Homo sapiens: one gene and its partner. The protein of the gene in region 1 purifies or fractionates together with the protein of each later gene. This does not show direct contact. Each region holds a gene or a part of one and is shown on either strand. Other genes may lie near its edges.

Evidence for each region.
Region 2: the proteins of TIGD7 (region 1) and MMP3 purify together in Homo sapiens (affinity purification with mass spectrometry; one large-scale study listed by BioGRID and IntAct). This does not show direct contact.

What each region holds. Positions count from the first base shown.
Region 1 is NC_000016.10:3,298,308-3,302,430, forward strand, and holds the end of TIGD7 (tigger transposable element-derived protein 7), read right to left. Parts: intron 3,703-4,123; 5' UTR 2,308-3,702; coding exon 658-2,307; 3' UTR 501-657; downstream 1-500. Other genes in the region: ZNF263 (zinc finger protein 263), read left to right, coding at 799-803.
Region 2 is NC_000011.10:102,835,301-102,837,955, forward strand, and holds the end of MMP3 (stromelysin-1 preproprotein), read right to left. Parts: intron 2,102-2,655; coding exon 1,998-2,101; intron 1,467-1,997; exon of another isoform or gene 1,138-1,466; intron 927-1,137; coding exon 826-926; 3' UTR 501-825; downstream 1-500. UniProt on the Homo sapiens protein: Metalloproteinase with a rather broad substrate specificity that can degrade fibronectin, laminin, gelatins of type I, III, IV, and V; collagens III, IV, X, and IX, and cartilage proteoglycans.

The DNA.
Region 1 (4,123 bases):
CATTATTATGAAGACTAACATATATATACGATCCTATATACTCAATAAATGCTAACGTATTAGTAACAAACCATAAAATATGTTAAGACAGTAAGAGATAAGGTTTTATTTACAATGTAATCTGCCTATTTAAAAAATATATGGTATACACCGAAGTGTTGAGGTTATCATTAGTCAATAGAATTGAGTGCTTTTTATCTTTTTTTATATATTCCCTATAATCAGCATGTTACTTTCACAGTAAGAGGAAAACAAACACTAAATAGGTAGTAACAGAGTTAAGAAAGCAGAGTGTGTTTTACCATTAAATTGAAAACCTAATTTATCCTTATCTTAAAGCTAACTAGAACTAGTCAGCACAGTTTCTTTGTTATACGATATGATTACAAACTAATGCTTTTCGCAAAGGCATTCCACCTTAGATAATCTGGGACAATACTTCATTATTCAGATCCTTGTGTAAAATTTAAAAAAATGAATTTATGAAACACAAATTTAAATAAATTTAAAGAAACACAAATGTATTATTTTCAAACTGTAAATTTTATAACCATTATATAAATGGGCACTGATATACAAAATAATGTCAGTTGCTAAAACAAGACAATTCACAGCTGGCCTACATCATATAATGGCAGAAATCTTTAAACACAAAATCTAATGATTAGAACCAGAAGTTGAAGGCCCACTGAAGGAGTCCTTAATATTATGAGGCCTAGGTTTCAAAAAGCTACCAATTCTAGAATGGATTTTACTCTGGAACTGTTTCTTGACTATTTCTTGTTGCATCTCTTTCAGTGTGAAGTGGAATCTCTGAAACTCAGGTGTGGCATCAACAAAGTCAAGAAGGTAGTCCAAACTCTCTCTTACAGCAGATAATTTAAATTCAGCAGTCTGCTTCTCAGCTTCTCCTCCTTTTTGAACAACTTCCTTTGTTATTCCACCTTTGGTTTTTAGGAGACAACCCTTTTCTTCATCTCCATTTAACCACACCCTATCATCATCCAACTTAGTTTCCAACTCCCCACATTTTTCAAGAATTTCTCTATAATCCCCATGTTCTAAGCCTTGAAAATCATATTCAGGTTCCTTTTTGTAAAGAAGATTTTCCCATGCATTTGCTATGGTTATTTGTTTTACTTCTTCCCAACTTTTTGCCCAGTTAAAAATTGCACTTTTTATATTGTAGATTTTAATTTTGGAAACTCCTTTATCTCCTTTCTCTTGCTCATCATCACTTTCTTCAAATATTACAAGACTCTCTTCAAGTTGCTTCCATCTATACAGCCGTTTGCAGCTCAAGATCACACCTTGATTCATTGGTTGAATCAAGGTTGAAGTGTTATGGGGGAAGAACATACATTTTATTCGACCATCCTCACTGGTTAGGGATTCAGAGGAAGGATGAGCCGGGCAACTGTCCAGAAGTAACAATGCCCTGACGTCCTCGTCATGAAATCTTAGAACATTAAGTTGAAAATGTCGGACCTCAGGAACAAAGTTTTGAAAAAACCATTCTGAAAACAATTCTCTGGTGAACCAAACATCTTTACTGGGTTTATATATCACAGGCAATGTACTTGTGTCCTCTTTCACACTTTTGGGCAGTTTTGATTTTCCAATAATGATTGACTTTAATTTATGAGTTCCGTCTGCATTTGCACATAAAAAGGCAGACAACCTTTCTTTGTTTATTTTCTTCCCTGGTAGGCAGATATCTTTCCTACTTGCCTGAGAATTTTCTGGCATTGACTTCCAAAAGAGGTCTGTTTCATCCCCACTGTATAGCTGAGCTAGACACAGTTTCTCCTCTTTGATTATCATGGACAGTTTTTGTCGAAATGGCTCAACATTTTCAGAAACTGAACTTAGGACTTGTTCCCCACATCCTTTTCGGTTCCCAATTGCATGCCGATTTCGAAATCTAAAAAGCCAACCAGTGCTAGCTTTGAAATCTGTTCGCCCAAAACACCGTGCAAATCTCTCTGCAGCAGCCTGAAGCTCCACGCCTCTTACCGGAACACCGGCTGAGCGTTTCTGTTGGTACCACATGTAGACCGCATCATCTACATCACCATATTTGGCTCCCGTTGTCCTCTTTCTCTTCTCAGCCCCTACTAATGGCATGTCCTGCTTCAGTACAAAGTCCAGAATTAACTTCTTATTTTTTTTAATGTCATAAAATGTTGACTTACTGATTCCAAATTCATCCATTACACTTTTAAGTGATCGTCCAGCTTCAATTCTACTTAGAACCTTCATTTTCTCCTCCAAATTCAGTGTTGTATATTTCCCTCTCTTATTCATACTGAATTTAACTCTGAACCACCAACAGGAGAAAACAAAGGGAAAAGCCTTAATGAATTGGCAAAAAAAAAACCCACATTTTTTAAACAAAACTTAGCTGAAAGCCCCAGAAGGCATGGGCATTGTATTGGAGGATAATGGACTGAAGGGGCTAACCATGACTGAAGAGCTAGTCTAGAGGTGGAGGTCTTATGCACTCAGAAAGCTGCCAGTTGCAAAGTCCTGTCTGGCTCTTGCTCCTGCAAGCCATGAGTGATCATTTTTCAGAATGCCCCCTACCTCTCCTCTCTTTTGACAGATACAACAGCCTCAGTCAGGAATGACAGGAATACCTGCATACTTTCCCTAACTCAATACCGGAAAACGGACAATATGAAGAGAGGAGGGATGGAGCAAGATGTGCCCACAAGACAGGTGTGATAAGTTTCCATAAAAACTGATGCTTCAGAAGAAGGGAGCGTGAAAGACTCAAAGGCAATGACAGAGTAATCTTGTGTGTAGCAGAGATGCAATGTGGCTTCTCCCCTTCCAAAAAGACCTGATTTTACCTCACTGCCAGAAAAGAGAATGGTGCTCAAATTGCTTTGTACATAGTGTTCACTGGGCAGCAGTTCATCTACCTGGATAAGGGCTCCGAGCTACAGGGACCCTGACATTGGGATGTATGGAGAGTTGGAATTCAGGAACAGTTGTACCGAATCTTGAAGTGAAGAAGAAAGTAGTTTGTTGTACATATGAATGAAATCCAACTTTTATTGCATTCAATATAGTATTGTCAAGCACCGTGCTTTAACTTGAATGTCTCTTGTGTTTGCCAAGGTAATATGTAAGTATGTAAATAATTTATTTGTCAGTGGCACTTTACCATTCTCAGATCTTCTTTCTTGGGAACATCTGATTTATTCTCAAGTGCTATTTTTCACTGAAACTGTTCTCTATTTGAGATATTATCAAGTTTCAGAATCACAGCAATTCTCAGAGATGAGCCCAAAAGTTTTACAAATATTTCACCATAGTTAAAAATTTTTAAAGATCTGTCCTTTCATTTGTTTTCCTAAATTTACACTATAAGTAACATACTTTTTATATTTGAGATTTTGATTTCTCTTCAGTGTTTATTTTACTTAATTTGAACCAAGACTCAACTTTTCCACAGAAGAAATCTAAAAGGTTTCTCTGCTGCTGTTTCTGATCAATTGTTTCTCATAAATCCTACTGGCAAACTCTTCTGTCCCTCTAGGCCCTCAAATACTCTTTTCGGGTCCTCCTGGTGCTCCCCAAAGCCATTCCAGGTCCTTAGAAATGTCTTAGTCTAGATTAATTTCCTGGTTCTCAGTCCAGATACACAACCTCATGGGAAGAAACAAAAACTGCCACTTTTATCCATTCCAGGTGCTACGAAGAAAGAAAAGTATGTCAGAGAAATAAGGGAAATGGCTGGTATCTCAGTTATTCTTCCTCTTCTTTAGGGCAGAATCTGACTGGCCCATTCATTCCTCAACTACATAGAATTCTCTCTCTTTTTTTTTTTGAGACAGAGTCTTGCTCTGTCACCCAGGCTGGAGTGCGATGCCGCCATCTCGGCTCACTACAACCTCTGCCTCCCGGGTTCAAGCAATTCTCCTGCCTCAGCTTCCTGAGTAGCTGGGACTACAGGTGTGTGCCACCACACCCGGCTAATTTTTGTATTTTTTTGGTAAAGAGGATTTCACTATGTTGGCCAGGCTGGTCTCGAACTTCTGAACTCATGATCCGCCCGCCTCAGCCTCCCAAAGTGCTGGGATTACAGGCGTGAGCCACCACACCTGGCCCATAG
Region 2 (2,655 bases), on another chromosome or scaffold:
GGCATTTACATCCAGGCACAGGCAGATACAAAATGAGTACAAGAGTATATTTTACCATGTGAATAGGGTAGATATGAGGAAGTTTGCTTGCTAGGTCAGGGGAGGGACCTGCACTGAGGGAATTTATAAGTAAAAGGAAAAGATGAAAAACAAGTCTGATTTCCTCACCCTGTAAAATGAGATGTGCAAACAAGGCAATTTGCTATGATTATAGGATTCCCTTCACAGTTTTTCCTAGAGCCTGCTCTACAATGTCACAACCCCTCTAGATTTTTTGCCTTAGGTATGTCAGGACACATAAAATGTCTAGGTGGTAGAAATAAGCATCCTGTTTGCAGGGCTCATGAGGAGGGCAAGTGGTAGATTCTCTGCAGTTCTGGAACCCATTGTGAACCCCAAGCCATGGAGACTCTAGTCTACTGGCTGAGCATGCTCAGCCCATAAAGTGCCCAAATTATGAGAACAACTTGCCCTTGAAACAAACAAACACAACAATAAGATAAAATAACTGACAAATCGTCTTTATTAAATAAGCAAATAGTCTACACAGATACAGTCACTTGTCTGTTGCACACGAGTGCTTCCCCTTCTCTTGGGAAAGATCACTCTATGTGACAAGGTGCAAGCTAAGCAGCAGCCCATTTGAATGCCCTGTAATAACATAAAAATGACCGGCAAGATACAGATTCACGCTCAAGTTCCCTTGAGTGTGACTCGAGTCACAGCACAGGCAGGAGAAAACGAACATTTCAATTCACAGAGACTTAGGTGAAGAATTATTAGCTTCATTTAAAGTGCCCATATTGTGCCTTCTACATATCTCTTTCAACAATTAAGCCAGCTGTTACTCTTCAAAGTGTGTGTCACTTTCTTTGCATTTGGGTCAAACTCCAACTGTGAAGATCCAGTAAAGAAATAAAAGAACCCTGCAAATACAGACAAGGGAAATAGTAAGATATTTTTCCAAATAAAGACATTTGACAATATACAAAACTCAGAATCATAGAGAACTAAAAATAGAAAGTGTTTATAGAGCTTTACTTTATGTCAGGGACTATGCCAAGCTTGTTACATGAATTTATTTTCATTTATTTCTGCAACAACCCTATGAGGTTGTATGTCTAACTCCATTTACAGATTGAGCAAGTTGAGGTTGAGACAGATTTCGATGCTTCCTCAAGGTTACTCAGCAAGGAAGAATGGAGACAGCACTCGGTGCCAGCTCTGTCTGAAAACACAGCCAGATTCCAGGTTACAGGGTTATTCTGCTTCCGATCAGATAAATTCTCCACTTGCTTGGAAACTCTCATCACCTATTTCTTTCTTCCCCAAAAATCCTCCTCCCTTTTCCCTGCATTGCAGCCTAGGAAGCACAGCAACTATTTCAAAACACCAGGGGACCCTTTAGTGCTCTGCAAACATGGTGATCAGGTTACCTTTCAATAAAGATCATCAGCCTCCACTTCCTTACCTTGAGTAGAAAACAAAATCTTTTTTTTTTTTTAAACTTTGGGCACATGGAAAGGTAAGTATTTGCAAATGACTGGCATGGGCAATGACTGACAACTCAGGAAAGACAGACAAAAAATCTCCCTGGGAATTAGTAGCAGCAATAAGATAGGGTGGAGGAGAAGGCCAGCTAACCAACATTAAACCTGGCCACACCACTTGATGGGATTTTTATGCTAACATGGTAATCTGAAAGTCGAGCTTGACTCCACATGTTAGCTCGAGATGTAAGTGACACTGGAGCACTTTGATTTTATATGCATGTATAAGATAAAGTAGCGAGATTTGTGTAATTATCTTTATGGTTCCAAACAAGTTATTTTGTGAAGTAGTTCTATAATGAGTACAAATGTAGGCGAATCAAAATTTTGAGAAGGGAACTGGCCCTAAGAAACACTTGTTATTAAAAAGTTTCAATGCTCCTCTTCCCTCTGATATCATAAAATGTTTCAAGTGCTCTATGGCCAACACAGTAAGTATCCTCTTACCAAATTCTTCAAAAACAGCATCAATCTTTGAGTCAATCCCTGGAAAGTCTTCAGCTATTTGCTTGGGAAAGCCTGGCTCCATGGAATTTCTCTTCTCATCAAATCTGTACCAAGTAAAAGAAACAGCTCAGCATTGCATAGAGGCCATGTTACCGAACATCTTAGATCATGTTAGGTTTAATGTGGAATTTTACTAAACTTTATAAATACTGCAAATAAATGCCAAGCATATTTGGGACTATAGAAATATGTGACTTTAATGGTACTGTAAAGAGTTCTGAAAGCCATATCTCCATCCGGAACAGGGGCCGCATCCTGCTGTATGTAGCACATGCTGTTTGTCATCATATTTCTTAAGCCTGGACAGAAAGAACCTTAATCATCTTTCTGTCACAAAGACATGAAAGTGTGAACATATATATAAAGTGAATTGAATCAACATCTAAAATGCAATTTTAATTCCCTACCACAATTGGCCCATATATGCCTGCTGTCCCCTCCCCTGCACATCTAAATCTTCTCTGGTGGCCTCCTGGGAAAAGGGATTAGGATAAGAAGCAAAGCACAGTAAGTGTGTTTTTAGCCCATTGGCTGGATATCAGATGGTCGGCCTCGATGTCTCAAAGTCTGGCCAAATGACCCAGGAATCAACCTGTCT